Linked DNA regions of Homo sapiens. The protein of the gene in region 3 purifies or fractionates together with the protein of the main gene of each other region. This does not show direct contact. Each region holds a gene or a part of one and is shown on either strand. Other genes may lie near its edges.

Region 1 (6,411 bases), on a different chromosome or scaffold from region 3:
CAAAATAAAAAATCATCCAGGAAGTAATTTATTCTATACTTTTCAACATGTCATCCTTTTTTTTTATCATGTTATCTAACATATAGGGAAGATTAATTATAATATTTTAGATGGAGCCTATTGGAGAAATGAGTTTCCTAGACTAGTCACGTCATATATGATTTTATAACCCAAAACACCAAACTCTAATGGCATTAAAATCTTGCAATGGGAGGTTTATCAACACTAGCTAAATCATAGTGGATAGCCTAGTAGCCTGGAAATCAAGACACTAGAGTAATCATGGTAGCGCATTAATTAGTTATGTAAATGAGGGCATGCTACTCAAGTTCTCTGAGCTTCAGGAGAGAAAAAAAATACTTGATTGGTACCTCATGGGGCTGTTGTAAGGAACAAATGAGATAGAGTATGTGGCATGATTTGTATTATAGAGCATACAATCCAAATATGAGCTAGATAAGGCATAAAACGTGCAAGTACTACATACAGTGTTTCTAATTATATTACAGCTTTCATCTACGTGGTGTTCCACATTTTATATTTAAGCAAGAGCTTATAAGATTGACTCTCTCCCAGTTATCACAACTAATGAACTCTTAATGGGCAGCTACAAATATAGATTTTATCGGAAGGAGGAAATTAAAGTGATCAAGGAATTATTTTTTCTCCCCTGACATGTAAAAAGTAAAGAGACTGCTAATTAGAAAATATTTAGCTGTTCTTTATAAGTACCTGAATGGTCTGAATTTTCTGAGTATTCATTCTTCATTCAGATATAGGAAATGAAAAGTCAAAACCTTCTCTAAATATTGTCATTCAATGGATGTATCTCCTGGGCAAAAATGTAGTTAATTTTGTTTGTTAGAGCCATATACTAAGTGCTAGGTTTCATAGACAAGAGGCACAAACTGAGGTGCTTCCTTGCTTTGGTTTTGTAGTATAGCATATTTAGAGCACATCTAGAATAATGCTGTAAAAAGGAATTGCCTGAGCTAATAATATTATAAGAAATTGTTTATTCTGTTAATACAAGTACATAATTTTCTGCAACTCAGTTATTTGCACTCAATTATTAACTCCTTGAACATGACTTCAGCTAATGACTGCCACTCTGAAGAGATAAAATAGGATTAATGATCAAACTCCTTTATTTCTAAGGAGTGATTACATATGCAAATGAAAGGAGTAGTAGCATTTCAAATAAGTTCCACCAGAGAGTACTTTTCCTTAACCAATATCCAGGTATGTTAATGGGTACCTTTCCTTTAGAATGTTAACTTCGGGGTCCTAACTTAAAATCTAGGTAGCAAAATTAAAGGTGGTAAGAGCCAGGCTAAAGAGGACTAATTGAATTCTCTCTGTGGCCTTTGCTGTTAATAGTTCATTTTCTTTGTGTCCCACTTTACTCTCTTTTTCTTTTAGCCTTTTTATTTAAAGACTTAAGTATTTACCCTTCGAAAATCAGTGTCGTTTCTGGTGGGGAGAGAAGGTATTCACAGAGATGAGTCAGAGGCACATACAAATAACTTGTAATACAAAGTTAGATGTTAATGAAAGAAAAGGAAATGTTTATCCTACCTCATCCACAATACTAGTAAACTAAGTACTTACGATTTTTTAACTGTTTGTTTCTTCATTTGTGTAGCCAGACCTTGTTTCTTTTCCCCAGCTATCGTCAATTTGCTGATTAGGTAAATTCCTCACTGGTCTTTCTACAGGTTTCAAAAAGGAACAAGGTAGATTTTCAGAAACTGTTTTGGGTTGAAAATTATATATTAAAATGAAAATGATATAGTACCTGAAGACTGCTAGTAAATTTTGCTACAGTAAATTTATGATAGTTACCTTCTGTTGCCTGTAGTTGAACTGGAAACCTGACTTTGTAGGTTTTTTGTCCTTGGTTTCTAAGATCTGTCAACTTTTGATATACCCTCCTCTATATCTTTGGTCATCTAACTTCCCAACATGCATACACATAAATAGTAAATACAAATTAGTGATTTTTATAATTATATTGCAGGAAGGTTGTATGCTTTTCGGATGTTGGATTTTTATAGCGCCTTCATCATCTTTAGTGTTGGTTTCTTCCTTTGACTTTGTATATTTCTCCTAAGCCCCACTGATTTCTTGGTTATTTCTTGGTTACAGGCTGTCATGGTGGTCACCTGATCCTTACCTGATGTTACTGGTTACCTTGAGATTTTATCAGTGTCTGTGGTCTCTTCATCAGTTCTCTCCAAAGGTTTCTCTCACTGATTATCTTTCAATATTCTTAGACTTGAATGAAGCAGTCCCAGAGACAGAGCGCCTGGATTCAAAAGCACTGAAAACTCGAGCCCAGCTCTCTGTGAAGAACAGACGCCAGAGACCCTCTAGGACAAGACTGTATGATAGTGTTAGTTCCACAGATGGGGAGGACAGTCTAGAGAGAAAGGTGAGCACCCTTGACCGTTTCCTGATTTGTACTGTTGGAGTATATCATTGTTCCTACAGCTTATTGAAGATTATGATTTTTCTGCAAACAGAGTCTATGTCCTAGTTGGTAAGCAGCTAGAATAGTTCACGTCTTTGTCTCCTGAATTCTTTATATTGTTGTAATTCAAAATATTTTGTCTATTCATTCAGTGAACTAACCAAGAGCATTATCTGTATTGTCATATTTCATGATGGTGCTTTTGATATTCAGCTATTGGTTTTACTTAGTGGGAAATAATGAACGTACAAGTAATTGTTTCTGTAGGTCTTAGGTATATGTATTAGTGACGATGTTAATATGGTGAATTGGTATGAACCATGCATTCTCATCTGTAAATCAACAAAAACTGGTTTTCATGGGGATTCACTAATAAAAGGTTGGTCTTATTTCAAAGTAAGTATTGCATAGAACTGATACTCAGTGGCATAACCTTCCTTATAATCTCTTATACCAACAGCCATCAAACAGTTTCTATAACCACATGCATATTACCAAATTACTTCCACCTAAGGGTTTGAGAACGTCTTCTCCAGAATCAGATTCTGGTGTTCCACCCCTCACCCCGGTGGATAGCAATGTGCCCTTCTCGTCTGACCACATAGCTGAATTTCAAGAAGAACCACTGGACCCAGAAATGGGGCCTCTCTCCTCTATGTGGGGAGACACTTCACTGTTTTCTACTTCAAAGTCTGATCATGATGTGGAAGAATCTCCTTGCCATCACCAAACCACCAACAAGAAAATATTACGAGAAAAAGGTATTGTTAATTTCTTTTTCTGACTTCATAACACCTCAGCTTGTACAGTATAAAAATGACTTTTTCTCATAATCATAAGTCATTTGTTTTCTCATAGCTAATAATTAATATTAATTTCTTTTTATATTATAGAATAAGAGAAACAACCCCTCCATGTATTTTACTTTAATTTAGTTTTATCTTTTCCTATCTGGTTCAGTATTTTTATCTCTTCAGCTCTCTATAAGTTTACTACTCAAGGGAGTTCTTCAGGGGAGTGGGGCAGCCCAGAGTTTCAACAAACACTAACACAGTCATAAAGAAAAAAACACTACATAGTCATATAGAAAAATATAGAGCGATTTTGTAGAATAGCAGCCCAGAGTTTCAGTAAACACTAACGTAGTCATATAGGAAAAAAAGACGAAGATCAAAGTAACACAGGCATATAATTGATACTTAATAATGTTCTTGGATGAATTGCTAATATACCTCTCCACGTAACCAGTGCAGATCTTCTAGAAGAGGGATAATCAACCGAATGTAGTCTCCACCTGCTTTTGTAAATGAAGTCTTATGGGAGTACAGTCACACTTTTTTACTTACATACTATCTATTTTCATGCTACAGTAGCAGTGTTGAGTCGTTGTGACAGAGACTGTGTATCTCACAAACCTAAAATATTTTACTCTGTGGCCCCTGAAAGGTAAAGAAAGCTTCCTGATGCCTGGTCTAGAAGTATATTTTCTTATACTCAAAATTGCTGGATAAACTCTGAAAATGGCTTCATCATTGGTTGCCATTTATCTAGAATTTTTAAAAAGTGTTATACCTTTACTTTTGGTCTATCAAGTTACCACAAAGATGATTAATTACAGCCATGTTTGATTGCAGGCTTGAGGATAAGGCTCTGGTTACCCTAACAGGAGTTGGCGATTTTCTGAATTGTGTCAATACCACATTTACAAATCATTTTTTTTCATATCTGAGGGACATCAGTGGAAATTAGGATGGAGAAGTCCCATTATAACTGGCTAAATGATAAGCATCTAACGGAATATCAAATTAGAGGAAGTAAAAGATTTTTTTCTAGAGATTTGTAAAACAGGTTATATGCCAGTAGAAGGCATGAAAATATTTTCCTCGTTCCTGTTATATAAACAACCTAATACTAAAGTTTTGGTCCCGAGGCTTACATAGCACTGGGCCTTTGTTCAGTCAAGATTAAATAAAGTAAATTGAACACTATCAATTTTCTACTCACAATTACTAGAGATTATTATTCTAATTTTTTGTGTGGTTAATAACACATTATTTGACCCAGAAGATGTGTTCAAAAATATTCATTGAATTAATGTCTAGTAAATAGAAACTGGCTTTTTTAAAGCTTTACAGGATTTATTGCTTATTAAAAGCATTGGGCCTCTGCAAGTATAGATAGAGTACAATTATATCAACGCTCAGAAGAGAGAGAGATTGCGTCCAGCTGAGGTTGGTAAACAAAACCTATCCAAGGAAGTACAATTAGAATAGCCATCAAAGCACTTAAGGGAAAAAAAGGGTAGGTAAGGAGGGAATAGCGGGTAAAGTGATGTCATTAACAGAGACAGGCACATATCATATGATTTAAAGGTACAAGGCTATCCCAGCCTGGCTGTAGCAGTTTGCTTATGCAGGGTGGAGTAGTTACACACAAAAGTGAGCCAGTAGGTTAAGTATATAGCTTTAGAAGTTAAACATCTTAGATAACTTGCCATATTACTAGGAAACCACAAGAAGTTTGACCAGAGGAATAAAAAGGAAAAGACACCACCAGGTATGGAGAAGCTGAGTTAGGAGACCCTATGAGGTGGTGCCCTCTAAAGAGGAGCAGTAGACAGTGACAGGAAAGAATGATTCAAGGACCCTTGAGACATACCTTGACTAGGTAACAGGTAAGAAAGTGAGGCAAAACTATCATGGGCTTCACGCCTCAGAACATATGGTCTTGTCATTAACAGAAAATAGGAAATCAGCAACATGATGGGGGAAATAGGATTAACTCATTTTTTTAACAGAGGAGGTCATGAGCGCAAGAGAGAGGTCAGGACTGCCAGGTAGATTTGGGAGTCCCCATTATAAAGGAAGAGATAGTCAAGTATCTTATTACAGTGAGATTAAGGAGATGCAGTCCAGTACAAGACCTTAGGATTTGGCCATCAGGAGATCATTTATTATTTGAAAATGAAAACCAGGTTGCCACAGCTTAAAGTTGAGGCACCCAATCTGGGGGCTCAGATGTATAATTGGTCACAAAGGTAGTATTGGAGAGATTTTAAAAAGCCTAACAGAAGTCTTACGTAGAGCTAAATAAACAAAATGTATGTTTCTTTTTTCCTGAAATCATACCAATCTAATGTTGGATTTTATGCAGACTAGAAGTTCTAGTGTGCATTAAAGATGGATTTAATCGATTTTAAATGGGAAAGTACATTATTCCTTATTCTTAACATCTTCAGCCCTATGGAAGCATTCATTTCAGTGTTCCTGGGAACGCACTTTGGCAAATGTGTGAGATAAAGATGTAAGGTTGCCTAGCACCAAGCTCTGTGATAGGCAGAATCAGGCTTTTAGTCGCATGATGTCCAAATAACTGCAACACTCATGGGTTACAGAGTGTTTTCGTGTACATTGCCTCAGCTGGTCTTCTCAGCGCTCATTGTAACATCTCCCAGCTACCTCTCATTCAGGAAATAATTAGGCAGTCTCCTTTTAACTTTGCATAGTCCTAGCCATTAAGAGTTGCTTTAGGATTGATCTGGAAGAATTTGGCACTTTCTTTTCTTCAGCTTCTATTAAGAAAATTTAAATCTTGCTTTTAAAAATAAAATCCATTAGTAAAATCACCTTAGAAGGTGTTTGTGCCATGTCTATGTCTATGGATTTTTTTATATGATTGTGTCACATCTGTGACAATTCAGTTACCCAAAGAGTAATGATGCAAATATGCATAATAAATATTTGAGGCTTGAAGTGGATTTTTGACACAGACATATTTCTGACTCTTGTGTTTCATTATGTACATTTCAGTGAGTTGCTTATTGTAATCTAAGTATCATTAACTAAAAATATGAAAAGCTCATTGCTAAAAACATTTGGAGTATTTGTCAGTGTCCTGTGCTGCTTGAGAGCTTTGAACCTAGACTGCTATCCATGAAC
Region 2 (5,700 bases), on a different chromosome or scaffold from region 3:
TTGTTTGTTTTCTAAGAAACAAATCAAGGCAGTTTAAGTTAGCAGCATTTTCCTTTATGACTAAAAGGTGGGTTTTCATAACGTTTTCTTAGGATGATGAAATAGAAAGTGAAGCAAAAAAAGAATCACTTTCTCCCGGAAAATTGAAACTAACTTTTGAAGAACTGGAGCGACAAAGACAAGAAAACCGAAAGAAGCAAGCTGAAGAGGAAGCAAGAAAACGTTTAGAAGAAGAGAAGCGTGCTTTTGAAGAAGCAAGGCGGCAAATGGTAAATCTACATATTTAAACCTTACAATTAATATTAATGAAGTTAGCCGACTTAAGATAAGGTTTACTACTACAAATTCAAAGAGATTTTACATATAGAAGGGCTGATTTTCTAATTGTATTCATATTTCATATATAAAATACATCTAGGCTAGGCACGGTGGCTCATGCTGTAATCCCAGCACTTTGGGAGGCCAAGGTGGGTAGATCACCTGAGGTCAGGAGTTTGAAACCAGCCTGGCCAACACTGTGAAATCCCTGTAATCCCAGCTGCTTGGGAGGCTAAGGCACGAGAATCACTTGAACTTAGGCGATGGAGGTTGCAGTGAGCTGAGATCACGCCATTGCACTCCAGCCTGGGTAACAGAATGAGACTGTCTCAAAAAAAAAAATCCATACTGTTTTCCAGTTTTCACTCTGGGGCATTTTACCCAATATGCTTTAAATTTTTATTTTTATACATTGTTATTAATGTATAAATATGCAAAATAATTACTCAATGAACCTGGTTTCCTTCATCTGTTAGTTCAATCTGCAAAGTACTTAATGACATGGGTGCGGGACTGATTATAAGTGTAAACTTGTCCTCAGCAGTCCAGTTTTTCAACTGTTTGAACATATCAAAATAACAGTTTACGGTGGAATATGCAGTTTGTCCTATTAAGTGTATGTGTGTGCATATTTGTGTGCATGCCTCTGTGTGTGTGTGTCTGTGTGTGTGTGTGTGTGTGTGTGTGTGTGTAGTGTGGTTAAGAGCATGGATTGTGGGGCCAGATTGTCTAGATTCAGATATCAGCCATTTACTAACTGTGTAACCATGGACAACTGTTTTAATCTCTCGCTGTGTTAATTAATTAAATCTCTCTTAGTTTCTTCATTTTTAAAATGGTAAAAATGAAAGCGCCTACTTCTTTTTTTTTTTAACTTCCACAATGACTTGGATTTTTTTTCAATGCCTATTTCTTAAATGGTTAAACAAGTTAATATCTAGGAAGCACTTAAAATGGTGTTTGTTACATATACTAAGTTCTTTGAAAATGTTAATTATTACTATGGTATTAATAGATTTATCAACAGAAAGTAAAACTGAAATAAGAAAACACTGATTCCAAACCTCGTTTTAAGATTTAAAAATGCGCCAGGCATGGTGGCCATGCCTGTAATCTCAGCACTTTGGAAGGCTGAGGCAGGCAGATCCCTTGAGCCCAGGAGTTTGAGACCAGCCTGAGCAACATGTGGAAACCATGTCTCTACAAAAACAAATACAAAAATTAGCCAGGTGTGGTGGCACAGACCTGTAGTCCAAGCTCCCCGGGTGCTGAGGCGAGAGGATTGCTTGAGCCCGGGAAATCAAGGCTACGGCGAACTATGAATGAGCCACTGGACTCCAGCCTGGGTGACAGAGTGAGACCCTGTCTCAAAAAAAAAAAAAAAGGATCTAAAAATGGAATATTTGTAATTTTAAAGTTACAGAACTTTCTTGATCAGCTTTCTTGAATGATGTTCTAAGAATTATATATATAAAAATTTAATTTTCTAGACATTTATTTGAAAATGTTATTACTCGGGTATAGCTGCATAATATCTGCACATTTTAGATATTTCTGGTGGTCAACTTAATAAAGAAATAGTATTGTTAAATAAATAATACATTTCAATTGATATTATAGTAAATTTAATAATAAACCTTTAATGATAAAATCATAAAGCTGGAATTTTACATAAAATAGTTCTAGATAATAATCTTTTATCTGATTAGTATAAGGTACCATAGTTCACAGTAAAAAAAAAAATACAAAAATTACAAAATGAGAACATTATTTTACTACCAAAGAGATTCTGTGTAGATATACTTGAACCCCAATTATAGTACACACATACGCATTTTATATTTGTTCTGGGAAAGTTAATACTCAACAGTAACCCCTCACTGCAGCCTCAACCTACTGGGCTCAAGGGATCCTCCCACCTCAGCTTCTCGAGTAGCTGGGACTACAGGCACACACCACCACACTGGCTATAATGTGTTTTTTGGTTTTTAGTAGAGACGAAGTCTTGCTATGTTGCCCAGGCTGGTCTTGAACTCCTGGGTTCAAGTGATCCTCCTGCCTCCTAAAGTTCTGGAATTACAGGCGTGAGCCGCCACAACACCTGGCTAAAAATGTTTTAATATTCAATTTTATCTATAGAAATTTGGCTTATTTGAGAAGTTTTATTTAACCTGAGTACATCTTTATATGGAATTTCTCCAAATTTGAATATTTTATCATAGAAGACATTAAAAAGGAAGGGGATTTAGGTCAAGTATATTAAGGGCATTGAAACTCCTGTGTGATAGTGGCTAATTCTGTGCCTTTTGATTAATAATTCATTCCTTTTTCTGATGAACCTCAATTCTTAGTAATGAATTGTTTATTTGGTTAGGTAAATGAAGATGAGGAAAACCAAGACACAGCAAAAATTTTTAAAGGGTACCGCCCTGGTAAACTCAAACTCAGTTTTGAAGAAATGGAAAGGCAAAGAAGAGAAGATGAAAAAAGGAAAGCAGAAGAAGAAGCCAGAAGGAGAATAGAGGAAGAAAAGAAGGCGTTTGCTGAAGCAAGGAGAAATATGGTAAGACAGAAGCTAACTGGAGAATGCTATTAGAATTCACCTTTGAGAATATGTTAATAGAATCATTAGACTTTAGAGAATACCCTATTATTTCTGGAAACTGTGCCAAGAGTAGAAATGGCAAATATGTTTTAAAGTCTCCCATGGAATAACACCAGTTGGTTGAAGGTATTTGCTTCAATTTAGTGTTCAGAAGATTCTGCTTTAAATTGCCATGCTTGGCACAAAGGATGGAATATTATCTCCCTTCTCTGGGAAGGCATGTTTTCCAGAACTAAGTATCCAAGGAAGAAGAAGAAGTAGGGAGTTTCCTCCCTCAACTTTTCTTTCTTCCTCTCCATTCTTTCGCCACCTCCTTCCCATACTCCCTTTCTCCCTCCTTCATTCCTTTATTTCCTTCCTTTCCTTCTTTCAGTTTTCATCCCACCTACTATATATTAAATGACCTGAGTCATTTAATCAGAATTATTTCTCTCTTCAAAATGCTCACTCATCACTCCTGGAAATTGATACCTAACTTAACTGTCACAAGGTTATGACTGTACTTCCTATACCAGTTTTATGTTTGTACAATGTACAGTTATCTGACAAACAATTTTGAAGCAATTTGAGACTAGAGCACTGCATCTCCTTCTTGAAACACTGTAATTAGCTTTGGTGATATCGTAACCTGGTTTTCTTCCTCTGTATGGGTGAGCATCACACACATATGTCCAAGTGTTTATTTGGCTTTATTGCCCACACAGATACTCAAATCAGAAACGTGGAAGCCTGAAACACTTCCATCTTCTTATTCATGCCTGATGTCCAACCAGTCACTAAGTCTCGTTTATTCTACCTCCTAAATCACTATGAAATCTGTCAGTTTTCCCCCCATTTTCACCGCCACTACTATAATCCAAGTTACTGTTACAACTTGCCTGGGGCCAACTCCTCATTAACTTGCTTTCTTACCTGTAACCTATTCTTTCCTGTAAGGCCAGGAGTGATCTTTAAAAAGAAAGAAATTTTGATTGTGTTTTGTTACTGTTTTGCTTAATATTTCCCCACTTTTCTTAAGCAAAAATCCAAAAACTTCTAAAACAAATTTCTTTATAGTCTTGCTCTTGTATATTGCTCTCGTTTCATTTCTTGATTCTTCCTGAATCTGCTCTTTGTTCCAAATATGCTGAATTTGTTTGTATTTCTTCAAAGTGAGACTCAGCCTTCACACTGTCTGAAAGATGTCCCTCACTCCTTTCCCTATGCTCTGCTAACTCCAATTCATAACTTTCCATTTCCTCTGGAAAGCCTTTCCTGATAATAAACACCTTCCATGAATTCTTACAGCATTTAGTACTCTTCTATCATAGCGCTAATCCTGTATTGTTACCACTTATGGCTGTCTTTTCCACTCCATGAGGCCAAGACTGTTCATCAAACATGTGGCACAATGCTTAGCGTAGCAGACCTCCAATAAATGTTGATGGAACAAGTGATATTGAAATCTTACGTGCAGTAGGTAATCCCTGATTCATAAATGGTTTCTACATAGAAGTCCTACAGACGTTGTGAATGCACTTAATTTTTGGAGAATAAGCAGGTTTAGAAGCGGTAGAAGAAGCCGGGCGCGGTGGCTCACGCCTGTAATCCCAGCACTTTGGGAGGCCGAGGCGGGCGGATCACGAGGTCAGGAGATCGAGACCATCCTGGCTAACATGTTGAAACCCCGTCTCTACTAAAAATACAAAAAAAAAAAAAAAAAAAAAAAAAAAAAAAAATTAGCCGGGCGTGTTGGCGGGCACCTGTAGTCCCAGCTACTCAGAGGCTGAGGCAGGAGAATCGCATGAACCTGGGAGGCGGAGCTTGCAGTGAGCCAAGATCTCGCCACTGCACTCCAGCCTGGGGGACAGAGTGAGACTCCGTCTCAAAAAAAAAAAAAAAAAAAAAAAAAAAAAGAAGCGGTAGAAGAGAAGTAACTGTGAAGATTACTAGACCTAGTCCTTGGGGCAGATTTGTAGGCCAATACTGCCTTTTTACCATGATTCACTAGCGGAAAAAATGCAGGCGAGAAAACTGCATTAAAACAAAACCAAGTTTCCTAAAGACATTTCTAAAGAGAAGAGAGAAAACCTTCCTCTTACATTTATATTGTTTTCTTATCCACAAATAAGTATTGTAATTTATCCAGGAATAAGTATTGTAATTTCATACCATAGCTTAGTTCATGCATATGTAAAATTTAAAAATTTCAGGCAATCTTTGAATTGTAAACCACTTAAACATTGTTTCTGAGTTGAAATAGTTCTGTGGTAAAGCCTGGATTACCTTGATAAAACTTGGAGCAAATGAATAATACCCCTTGCCTCTCTCATTCCCCTGTGTGTATTTCAACCACAGAGTCACAGTTCAGGCCAGAGGGTTATGTTATACCGCGCCCGGCCTATAATCTTTTGTTTTTTTTGAGATGGAGTCTCGCTGTCACCCAGGCTGGAGTACAATGGTGCAATCTCGGCTCACTGCAACTTCCACCTCCTGGGTTCACGTGATTCTCCTGCCTCAGCCTCCCCAGTAGCTGGGATTACAGGCGCCCACCACCACACCTGGCTAATTTTTGTATTTTTAGTAGAGACGGGGTTTCACCATGTTAGTCAGGCTGGTCTCGAACTCCTGACCTCATGATCCACCTGCCTTGGCCTCCCAAAGTGCTGGGATTACAGGCATGAGCCACTGTGCCCGGCCTATAATCTTATTAGAAATATTTTGAAGTTTGAATCCCAGCTTTGCCACATAGTATTTGTGTTGACTTTAGACAATTACTTTTCAGTGCCTCAGTTTCT
Region 3 (5,948 bases):
TATTCATCTTCTTTTGAAAATGACTCCTGTCCAGAAGTGTAGCTCTTGGTCGGTACTACCCCTGGCCCAAATGCTGTGTCAATTATAGAAACTGCACATCAGTTTCATGGTGACCAGCTATTGCAAATAAATTAATATTAAGAGATACACATCAATCTTTTAAATAGATTTTCATGGTATAGTGTACCCCAAACATAAAAAATAACTACAAAAAACATCGTTCTGGCATAAGGACGCATGTATGCATATGTTTATCACAGCACTATTCATGACAGCAAAGACATGGAATCAACCTAAATGCCCATCAATGGTAGGCTGGATTTTACAAAGTGGTACATATATACAATGGAATACTATGCAGCCATAAAAAAGAATGAGACCCTGTCCTTTGCAGCAACATAGATGGAGCTGGAGGCCATTATCCTAAGCAAACTAACACAGGAACAGAAAACAAAATACCTCATGTTCTCGCTTCTAAGTGGGAGCTAAACTTTGAGTACATGTGGACAAGAAGAAAACAAGAGACACTGGGGCCTGCTTGAGGTTGCAGGGTGGGCGGTTGGAGAGGATCAAAAAACTACCTGTCAGGTACTATACTTATCACCTGGGTGATAAAATAATCTGTACACCAAACCTTCACAACATGCAATTTACCTGTATTACAAACCTGGATACGTGCCCCTAAATCTAAAATAAAAGTTTAAATAAACAAATACGTAAGTCCTGTAATTACAAAATGGGCTCAAATTTAAAGGTGCTTTAAAGAAGCCATAATTTCTGGAGCCTTTTATTAAACTAAAATCTGCTTGCTCATAAGCAAAGCCCTAAAAAGTAAAAATAAAAAAAAAAAAAGAAAGCAATTACGAGTCTTTTCATCAGCAGAGAATTTATTTATTTTAACTTAAAAATTTCCCTTCAAAGTAAAAGGCCTCCCATAATCTTACTACTGTACAAATTCTATAAAGAAGTTGAGGGGAGTCCTTCTGACGCCCCTCATTGCTAACTCTTGTTTATAGTTGGTGGGCACCCTTCTGGGATTTTCTCCTTGTTTATATAGCTCTCTTATAAAACACATGCTTCTTTTCTTTACAAAAATGGAATCATGCTATACATATTAGTCTGCAACTTGCTTTTAAAATGTATTATAATATGGACATATATCTAGGTCAGTATCTTATTCTGTTTGATGGTTGAATTGCATCCCATTGTTTGGAGGTCCCTTAGACCATTTCACCATTTGTCCACTTAAGTGACTGGGCTTTTCCAATGTTGCTTTTACCAACAATGCTGCAAAGAATAACATTGTACATATACGCTAATCCTGACATGCCATAATTTTAAAAAGATAGCGACCTAGAAGTGAGACTACCGGCTCATAGTGCAAGTTTATTTTATTTTATTTATTTATTTTTTGAGACATGGTCACACTCTGTTGTCCAGGATGGAGTGCAGTGGCACAAACCCAGCTCACTGCAGCCTCGACCTCACAGGCTCAAGCGATCCTCCCATCTCAGCCTCCTAAGTAGCTGGGGCTACAGGCGCGCACCACCATGCCTGACTAATTTTTTCACTTTTTTGTAGAGAAGGGGTCTCACTATGTTGCCAGGGCTGGTCTCGAACTCCTGGGCTCAAGTGACCCTCCCACCTTGGCCTCCGAAAGTGCTGGGATTACAGGTGTGAGCCACCACACCCAGCCACAAGTTTATTTTCCATTTCAATAGCCTCCAATTATTAGCCACTAGAGACTCTTAACTTCCTTGAGTTAGGATCCTTACCAATTTTTGAGCACCTACCATACGCCTGCTATATGTAGCAATGGGGATGAAGAAAACAATCAAAACAAAACAAAAGAAAAAGGTATTTCCCTACCACCGTAGAGCTCTATATAGAAAGAATACAAAAAAAAAAAAGCAGCCAGAAAATAAGAATTAAAATAATTTGTATTGCACATAGTTGGTGTTTAATTCATAAATACCACTTACAAAGATTTATGACTCAAAGACAAGACAAAGTACTTCCATGGGTTGACACAGGGCTGTAAGCAATTCTTTGAACATGAAAGAAGCTGGACACATAGGTCATATTCCACTCCAGTACTCTTCCCAGTCCATCAAACTGCTCTCTTCCAGGCCAATAAGTACTTTCTGAAGTCTTCCTCGAGTCCAACTTCTAGATTTTTATTCCTTCCTCTCCCTGCATCATTCCAGCCATAGCTCCCCTTTGTGTTCATGCAATTAATTTCGTCTGAGTCAAAGGCCTTGTGTACTCTCGCTCGTTCAGAGGGCAAAGGTGTATTCTAGATCCTACCAGAAATAAGTTTCTTAGGAATTTGGTTTTATTTTATAACAAGCTAAGAGATCATGTTTTTGTGTTTCAAACATATTACTTTTTCTAATTTCCTCAAACTTAGATATTTCCCTTTTTAGTTCTTTCTGAGATTAAGCATCTTAGAACTATTCTCTCTTTTGAATCACGGCACCACCTTTAGCTAAGAGAAAAACATCTAATTCTCAGCTACTTCCAGGCATAATTGCAACAAAATCAGACCCAATATTGAAGATTCACGTTTGCTGTGTGTTTTACCATAATAAAAGTTCGAAATTCTGTGAACTCTCTTAATAAAATGTTCCAATTTCTTACACCCTTTCATGATGACGTTCTCTTAAAGGACTAACTTGAAATTTTCAACATTCAGTTAAGCCCATTTCCTTCCTATTAACAATCAGTATTCAATATTGTGGCACGTAAGTAATACTGTAGTTCTGACAGATTAATTTATATTTGCCTTATTAAGAGTCGTTGCTTTTTTTGCTCCCCGACTTAAATTTTTTTTGTTTTTCCCCAATCTATACGAATAAAAGCGTGAACTATATGTGAAATAGCTGAAGCTCCACTTCCATTATAAATAGACAATGTCCCAAATTGCCGTTTTACAAACATTCTCAATAGCATCAGCCAGTGATAGCAATCCGAATACTCCAGAGAGAATGCGACCAAAACCCACAACAAGCCCCGTGGTCTAGCACAGCAAAGAGAAAAAAAGAGAACACGAAAATGCCCTTGCTCCCCTCCGGGGGCCCCTTTTGTGCGGTTCTTGCCAACGCAGCAGCCCTCCTGCTATATAGCCCGCCGCGCCGCAGCCCCACCCGCTCAGCGCCGCCGCCCCACCAGCTCAGCACCGCCGTGCGCCCAGCCAGCCATGGGGAAGGTGAGCCCAGCCTGCGCCCCGGGACCCCGGAGCTTCCTCCATCGCGGGGGCCAGAGACTGGGGCAGGAGCAGGCCTGTGAGACCTCGCCTTGTCCCGCCTTGCCTTGCAGATCACCCTCTACGAGGACCGGGGCTTCCAGGGCCGCCACTATGAATGCAGCAGCGACCACCCCAACCTGCAGCCCTACTTGAGCCGCTGCAACTCGGCGCGCGTGGACAGCGGCTGCTGGATGCTCTATGAGCAGCCCAACTACTCGGGCCTCCAGTACTTCCTGCGCCGCGGCGACTATGCCGACCACCAGCAGTGGATGGGCCTCAGCGACTCGGTCCGCTCCTGCCGCCTCATCCCCCACGTGAGTACATCCTCAAGTCAGGACCCAGGCCCTCAGGACACTCACTGGATGGTTTCAAGCAAAAGTTAAACATTAGAAGTAGTGATCAGTCACAATAACTGAGAGTGGACAAAAGATGAACTATAGTGGATTAAGTCAATAGAGTTTGCTCCCCACATAAGCAAAGTATTACCCAGACACCAGTTAATCACAATTAATCCACAAATATGTATTGAGTAGGAATGTGTCTCCTGCCCTAGGGGTTGTATAAGACTTAAGTCCTATTCTGGAATCATTTAGAATGGAGTTGTAGAAAAACCACTAATACCCAATAGAAGAATAAATGCTAGAGCGTACAGCAGTTACTGAGCAAACAGGGTAATTTCTTTTGAGACTTTTTCCCGTTTTTGCTCCTCTCTTGCATATTTTGGGTTTTCCCAACCTATATAAGTAAGACTTTCCTTCAAAGGAGAGCAACACACATATTTTACACATGTGTCCCTTTTATCCCATATGTGTGTTAGAACACTAAAGTTTATGCAAAATTCGTCCTTGGACTTACTGATGTTTCTTCCTCCATTTTTCTTCATTGCATTCACAAGTTATTGACTTAGAATTAATTGTTCTTTAATATATGAAGATATTTAACATTTTATATTTTAATATATTTTAAATATTTATATTTTAATATATTTAAAACACTTATATTTTGAATAGAAGGCTTATATATTTAACATATTTTATTTATGTCATTGATTTAAATGATGCATTATCATTTAATTCAATATATTAAATGATATATTTAATATATTTTAAATACTTATATTTAAAATACATATTTTTATATTTTAAATATATTTACATTAAATATATTTAATGAATATAATGTATTTAATAATATATTTATTTAATAAATATGTATTTAATATATTTATATAACTACATAAATTATATTATATTTTAAATATATTTAACATATTTTAAATATATTTTAATATATTTTTAATATATTTCATTTACATTATATGTGTGTATATATATATTTTTGTTGTTGTTGTTTTGTTTTTGTTTTTTGAAACAGAGTCTCACTCTGACGCCCAGGCTGGAGTGCAGTGGTGCAATCTCGGCTCACTGCAACCTCCGCCTCCTGGATTCAAATGATTCTCGTCTCTCAGTCTCCTGAGTAGCTGGAGTTACAGGAGCACGCCACCACACCCAGCTAATTTTTGTATTTTTATTTTTATTTTATTTTATTTTATTATTTATTATTATTATTTTTTTTGACGAAGTCTTGCTCTGTTCCCCACGCTGGAGTGCAGTGGCATGATCTCGGCACACTGCAACCTCTGCTTCCTGGGCCCTAGCAATTTTCTTCCCAAGTAGCTGGGATTACAGGCACCCGCCACCACACCTGGCTAATTTTTGTATTTTTAGTATAGACAAGGTTTCGCCATATTCGTCAGGCTGGTCTTGAACTCCTGACCTCAAGTGATCCACCTGCCTCGGCTTCCCAGGGTGCTGGGACTACAGGCATGAGCCACTGCCCCACCCCTTATATTTCTGTATTTTAAATATATTTTATTTATATTTTAGTAAAGTTATTTTAAAATAAAATATAATTTGTAAAATAAATATAATTTTAATTTATACTTATAAAATATAATTTGAATATAATTATTAAAATAAAATATGATTAACTTTAAATAAAATATAATTTTATACATTTTATAATATATTTTAAATATAGTATATAATTAAATATGTATTAGATATCATATGTATATTAAAATTATACATTATTTAAATATATTTCTTTATAATTTAATGTTTATTTTAATATTAAAACATTTCTTCAAAATGGTATAAAATAGTAATAAGCTGTTACAGGTTTGGATTTGCATGTGGTACAGGATACTGAGCCTAGGAGGCAGCTCATCCTAAGAAATAGCTGAATATATTAAAGAGTGAGATTTCCTTCTCAATTTCTTCACCACACTTCATAATCTTGAAAAGGTACTGAATCTCTGTGCTCGGTAATGAGGAGTTTATAAATATTCAGAATTAATTAAATTTTACCATGTATTTCAAAATGGCTTGAGCGGGTCCTCACCAAGCTGGACTGCCTAACAATGCATTGGAATCATTTCACACTTGCTTTTCTTCTCTTTTTATTTCTGGGTCCGCCAGTCTGGCTCTCACAGGATCAGACTCTATGAGAGAGAGGACTACAGAGGCCAGATGATAGAGTTCACTGAGGACTGCTCCTGTCTTCAGGACCGCTTCCGCTTCAATGAAATCCACTCCCTCAACGTGCTGGAGGGCTCCTGGGTCCTCTACGAGCTGTCCAACTACCGAGGACGGCAGTACCTGCTGATGCCAGGGGACTATAGGCGCTACCAGGACTGGGG
Region 4 (6,411 bases), on a different chromosome or scaffold from region 3:
CCCAATGACTTATCCAAAAAAGATCAAGGAAGACTCTTTTCAGCTTATCTTCTGAGAGCTTTCATCTAATAGCAGCAGTATGTACCTTTCCTTTCACAGCCTCAGTTGATGCTTGCTATTCAGTTTTCCAAAACAAAATGATATATTTCTTAGGGATACATACCATGGCAGAGATTGGCTCATTGTTGACCAAGGCGTTTTCCCTTTCCTTCCTTGCAGTTAAGTGTAGCCATTTGACTCAGTTCTAGCCAGTGGAATGCGGACAAAACTGATGTATACCACATCCTGGCCTGGCCCATCAAACTTTCCATGCAATCTACCACAGTCCCTCTCTTTGTCCTCGCATCTGCCAGCCAGATGCAGGAAATTCAAAGTCTCTGAGGCCCCAGTGGGTGGCAGAATCACTAGCTGAAAGCAGCCTGAGTCCCTCAATGACTCTGTGGAACAGACCACCACTCTGTCACTGCTTTTCAACTCACAGCAAAGATGTGAGTGAGAAATAAATTTTGTGTTAAAAACCACTGATTTGGTAATTATTCATTAAAGTAGTTCAGCCTATCCTGACTAACAGACTTAGAGAGGTAGTAGAGCTTTTTGGTTTTTCAAAATTAAAAATTTTGGCCAAAAATACATGTATGGACATGGAGGATATTGCAGGCTTGAGCAGAGAATGGTCCCAAGAGAATGACTAATATGTTAAAATAGGCTTGTGATTTCCTGGAAGGGAGGGGGTGCCATTAAAGGATATCTTGAGGAAACTTCTAGGATAAATGTAACATGTAATTTCTTGACCTAGGTAGTGAGACCACAGGTGTTCATGTATTCTTCTTCCTAAAACTGTATTTTTGTTTTATATTTCTCTATAGTTCACAACTAATTTTATGCAAAATAAATTCGTTTTATAGCTTATAAATTGATGTTATAAGCTAGAATGGATGGATGGATAGATACATAGATAGATGAAGACTCTTGAAAAATCTGTTGGCGCATTTAGGGGGAAAGCAACAGGTAAACAGAAAATTATGTAAATGTAAAAGGCAAATTTTAACTCCCTGAAAAAACAAAGTTAAACAAGAAAGGAAACAAGTATGATATACCACATGGCTGATCAGTAAACAATATTTATTTCATTATAATGAAAACACCAACTATTGATTTAAAATTTCAAAATTGGAATGTTGCAGGGAGGGAAAGTGGGATGAAATAGTGAAGAAATACAAAATAACAATAAAACCACCAGTAAGTCCCACCATCCGAAGATACTCCTATTTTAATAACATTATTTTTTAAACAAAAATTGGTTAATATGGCAGGGCATGGCGGCTCATGCCTGTAATTCCAGCACTTTGGAAGGCTGAAGTGGGCAGATCACCTGAGGTCAGGAGTTCGAGATCAGCCTGACCAACATGGTGAAACCCATCTCTACTAAAAATACAAAAATTAGCCAGGCATGCATGGTGGCAGGCGCCTGTAATCTCAGCCACATGGGAGGCAGAGGCGGGAAAATTGCTTGAATGTGGGAGGCAGAGGTTGCAGTGAGCCAAGATCATGCCACTGCACTCCAGCCTGGATGACAGAAAAAGACTCCGTCTCAAAAAAAAAAAAAAAAGTTCCTAAAACATGCTATTTTGTAATCAGTTATGGTAGACAAATTCTAAGGTGGTTCCCCACCCTAATCGCCCTTCCTACTGTTCACACCTTTGTGTAATTACTTCCCCCATGAATGTAGGTGGGTCCTGTGACTTACTTCTAACCAACAGAATATGGCAAAGGTTATACAGGATGCTACTCCCATAACTATGTTACATTATATAAGACTGTCTTCCAGCCTGGTGCGGTGGCTGACGCCTGTAATCCCAGCACTTTGGGAGGCCGAGGCTGGCAGATCACGAGGTCGGGAGATCGAGACCATCCTGGCTAACATGGTGAAACCCCATCTCTACTAAAAATACAAAAAATTAGCCAGGCGTGGTGGTGAGCGCCTATAGTTCCAGCTACTTGGGAGGCTGAGGCAGGAGAATGGCGTGAACCTGGGAGGCGGAGCTTCCAGTGAGCCGAGACTGCACCACTGCACTCCAGCCTGGGTGACAGAGCGAGACTCTGTCTCAAAAAAAAAAACAAAAAAACAAAAAAAAATGAACTGTGCATGTGAGGGATCTAGGTTGTGCGTTCCTTATGAGAATCTAATGCCTGATGATCATCTGAGATGAAATGGTTTCATCCCGAAACCAACCCCCCCACCCACCCCACCCCCGTCCATGGAAAAATTGCTTTCCACAAAACTGAATCCTGGTGCCAAAAAGGTTGGGGACCACTGCCTTATACCATATAGAAAAGTTAACTCAGGGGTCAGGCATGGTGGCTAACGCCTATAATCCCAGCACTTTGGGAGGCCAAGGCAGGCGGATCACCTGAGGTCAAGAGTTCAAGACCAGCCTGACCAGTGAAACCCTGTCTCTACTAAAAATACAAAAATTAGCTGGGCGTGGTGGCAGGTGCCTGTAATCCCATCTACTCGGGAGGCTGAGGCCAGAGAATTGCTCGAACCCAGGAGGTGGTGGAGGTTGCAGTGAGCCCGAGATTACACCATTGCACTCTAGCCCGGGCAACAAGAGAGAAACTCTGTCACAAAAAAAAGAAAAGAAAAGAAAAGAAAAGAGAAAGAAAGAGAAAGAAAGAAAGAAAGAAAGAAAGAAAGAAAGAAAGAAAGAAAGAAAGAAAGAAAGAAAGAGAAAGAAAGAAAGAAGAAAAAACTCAAAATGGATCAAAGACCTAAACAAATGAGCTAAAACCATAAAACTCGTAGGAGAAAATATATGGGAAAAACTTCATGATATTGAATTTGGCAATGATTTCTTGGACATAATACCAAAAGCAGAAGCAACAAAAGAAAAGGTAAGTTGGATTTCATCAAAATTAAAAACTCTGGGCAGGGCGCGGTGGCTCACATCTGGAATCCCAGCACTTTGGAAGGCAGGCAGATCACGAGGTCAGGAGTTCAAGGCCAGCCTGGCCAACATGGTGAAAACCCGTCTCTACTAAAAATACAAAAATTAGCCAGGCATGGTGGCGCATGCCTGTAATCCCAGCTATTCAGGAGACTGAGGCAGGAGAATAGCTTGAACCCAGGAGGCGGAGGTTGCAGTGAGCCGAGATTGGGCCACTGCACTCCAGCCTGGGCAGAGCAAGACTCCATCTTAAAATAACATAACATAAAATAAAATAAAATAAAATAAAAACAAAACTGTGTACATCAAAGCACACTATCAAAAAGTAAAAAGGCAAACCACGGAATAAAAAAAAATTTGCAAATCACATAGCTGATAAAGGATTGATATAAAGAACTCCTACAACTAAGCAACAACAAAAACCCAATTAAAAAGATAAAAGACATAAGTAGACATTTCTTCAAAGAAGATACAAAAATGGTCACATGAAAAGATGCTCAGCCGGGCATGATGGCTCAACATACGTAATCCCAGCACTTTGGGAGGCTGAGGCAGGAGTATTGCTCGAGCCCAGGAGTTGGAGACCAGCCTGGACGTTGCTTGAACCCAGAGTTGGAGACCAGCCTGGGCAACATGTCTCTACAAAATATAAAAAAAAAGAGGCAAGGCACAGTGGCTCATGCCTGTAATCCCAGCACTTTGGGAGGCTGAGGTGGGCGGATCACCTGAGGTTGGGAGTTCGAGACCAGCCTGGTCAACATGGAGAAACCCCATCTCTACTGTAAATACAAAATTAGCTGGACATGGTGGCGCATGCCTGTAATCCCAGCTACTTGGGAGGCTGAGGCAGAATCGCTTCAACCTGGGAGGCAGAGGTTGCAGTGAGCAGAGATAGCGCCATTGCACTCCAGCCTGGGCAACAAGGGCGAAACTCTGTCTCAAAAAAAAAAGAAACAGAAGGAGAAAAGAAAATCAGCTGAACATGGTGGTACATGCCTGTGGTCCCAGCTACTGGAGAGGCTGAGGTGGGAGGATCATTTTAGCCCAGGAGGTCGAGGCTGCAGTGAGGCATGATTGTGACACTACACTCCAGCCTGGGTGCCAAAGCAAAATCTTGTCTCCAAAAAAAAAAAAAAAAGAAAGAAAGAAAGAAAAGAAGAGAAAAAGAAAAGATGCACAATGTCACCCATCACCAGGGAAATACAAATCAAAACCACAGTGAAATACCACCCTATTAGAGATTTTATTTTAAAAATAATCGATTTTTTTGTGTTAGAAAACAGGGCCAGGCACAAGCAGGCCGGGTGCAGTGGCTCACGCCTGTAATCCCAGCACTTTGGGAGGCCGAGGCGGGCAGATCACAAAGTCAGGAGTTCGAGACCAGCCTGGCCAATAGGGCGAAACCCCGTCTCTACTGAAAATACGAAAATTAGCCGGGCGTGGTGGCGGGTGCCCATAGTCCCAGCTACTTGGGAGGCTAAGGCAGGAGAATCGCTTAAACCCAGGAGGGAGAGGTTGCAGTGAGCCGAGATCGCGCCACTGCACTCTAGCCTAGGCAACAGAGCAACACTCTGTCTCAAAAAAAAAAAAAAGAAAGAAAGAAAAAAGAAAAAAAAAAGAAAACGGGACCAGGAACAATGGCTCACACCTGTAATCCCAGCACTTTGGGAGGCCAAGGCTGGCGGAGCTCAGGAGTTTGAGACCCTCCTGGGCTAATGGAGAGACCTCATCTCTACAAAATATACAAAAATTAGCCAGGCATGGCAGTGCACACCTGTACTCCCAGCTACTCGAGAGACTGAGGTGGGAAGGAACACTTAAGCCCGGGAGGTCAAGGCTACAGTGAGCTGTGGTCGGGCCATTGCATTCCAGTCTTGGTGACAGAGTGAGACCCTGGCTCAACATAAATAAAAATCAATCAATAAGAAAACAGAAAATAGTAAATGTTGGCAAGGATGTGGAGAAACTGGAACCCTTGTGCATTGCTGGTGGTAATGTAAAATGGTATAGCCACTGTGGAAAATAGTATGGTGGTTTCTCAAAATATTAAGCATAGAATTACCAAATGAAATTTGGTAATTATCAAATTACTAGCAATTCCACTTCTGGGTACATACACAAAAGAATTGAATGTGGCACTCAAACAGACATTTGCATACTCATATTCATGGTGGCACTATTCCCAAAAGCAGAAAGATGGAAACAACCCATCTATCAAAAGATGATTAAACAATATGGTATAAACATACGAAGGAATATTTTTCAGCCTTAAAACAAATGAAATTCTGATACATGCTATGACATGGATGAATCTTGAAGACATCATGCTAAGAGAAATGAGCCAGACACAAAGACAAATATTACATAATTCCATTTATACGAGGTACCTGGAGTACACAAATTCATAGAGTCAAAAAGTAGAACAATGGTTACCAAGGGCTATGGGCATGAGGTGATATTGTTTAATGGGCAGAGCTTGTTTAGGATGATGAAAAAGTTAGGGAGATGGATAGAGGTGATAGTTACACAATAATGTAAATGTACTTTATACCACCGAATTGTACACTTAAAAATGGTTTAAATGATAAATTTTAAGTTATGTACACAGTCATGTGCTGCATAAGGATGTTCCAGTCAACAATGGATTACACATATTACAGTGGTCCCATAAGATTATAATGGAGCTGTCCTATACACGTGTGCCCTTTTAAGAGATGGGGCCTCACTATGTTGCCCAGGCTGGAACGCAGTGCCTATTCATAGATGTGCTCATAGCACACTACAGCCTAGAACTCCTGATCTCAAGTGATCCTCCTACCTCAGCCTGAGTACCTGGAATTACAGGTGCACACCACCATGCCTGGCCTATTTTCTAATCTTTTATATCATATTTTAACTGTATCTTTTCTATGTTTAGATACACGAAAATTTACCACTGTGTTATAATTGTCTACAGTTATAGTATTCAGTACAGTGACATGCTGCACAAGTTTATGGCCCAGGAACCACAGACTATACCATATAGTCTAGGTGTGTAGTAGGCTATACTGTCCAGGTTAGTGTAAGTATACTCTATGATGTTTGCTTGACAAAATTACCTAATGATGCATTTCCCAGAACATATTCCTGTCATTAAGCAACAAATGACTGTATTTTACCATAATAAAAATATTTTTAAAAAAGGTCAACAGAGTAAATTTTATGTTATCTATATTGTACCACAATTTTAAAAACAAAACAAACTTTATTTGATTGCAAAGGATGAATCTGGCAAGACAAGAACAATGCCCTCTCATTTCCTTGACTGTTCACCTAGATACAGCATTATCTGTGACAAGGGAAAAAACATCTAATCTAAAGCTGAATTTTTTTCTACATTTAGTCCTATAATCCTTAGGTCACTTAACTGGGATACTCACTTTTTAAAAAAAGCAATGCTATATATTCAGTTTGTTCATGATTT

Evidence for each region.
Region 1: the proteins of CRYGD (region 3) and PPP1R9A purify together in Homo sapiens (affinity purification with mass spectrometry; one large-scale study listed by BioGRID and IntAct). This does not show direct contact.
Region 2: the proteins of CRYGD (region 3) and NEXN purify together in Homo sapiens (affinity purification with mass spectrometry; one large-scale study listed by BioGRID and IntAct). This does not show direct contact.
Region 4: the proteins of CRYGD (region 3) and LRRFIP2 purify together in Homo sapiens (affinity purification with mass spectrometry; one large-scale study listed by BioGRID and IntAct). This does not show direct contact.

The regions. Positions count from the first base shown.
Region 1 is NC_000007.14:95,266,274-95,272,684, forward strand, and holds part of PPP1R9A (neurabin-1), read left to right. Parts: intron 1-2,276; coding exon 2,277-2,434; intron 2,435-2,933; coding exon 2,934-3,234; intron 3,235-6,411. UniProt on the Homo sapiens protein: Binds to actin filaments (F-actin) and shows cross-linking activity. Binds along the sides of the F-actin. May be involved in neurite formation. Inhibits protein phosphatase 1-alpha activity.
Region 2 is NC_000001.11:77,926,624-77,932,323, forward strand, and holds part of NEXN (nexilin), read left to right. Parts: intron 1-92; coding exon 93-269; intron 270-2,692; coding exon 2,693-2,881; intron 2,882-5,700. UniProt on the Homo sapiens protein: Involved in regulating cell migration through association with the actin cytoskeleton. Has an essential role in the maintenance of Z line and sarcomere integrity.
Region 3 is NC_000002.12:208,121,725-208,127,672, reverse strand, and holds the start of CRYGD (gamma-crystallin D), read left to right. Parts: upstream 1-3,148; 5' UTR 3,149-3,199; coding exon 3,200-3,208; intron 3,209-3,318; coding exon 3,319-3,561; intron 3,562-5,727; coding exon 5,728-5,948. UniProt on the Homo sapiens protein: Crystallins are the dominant structural components of the vertebrate eye lens.
Region 4 is NC_000003.12:37,163,128-37,169,538, forward strand, and holds part of LRRFIP2 (leucine-rich repeat flightless-interacting protein 2), read right to left. Parts: intron 1-6,411. UniProt on the Homo sapiens protein: May function as activator of the canonical Wnt signaling pathway, in association with DVL3, upstream of CTNNB1/beta-catenin.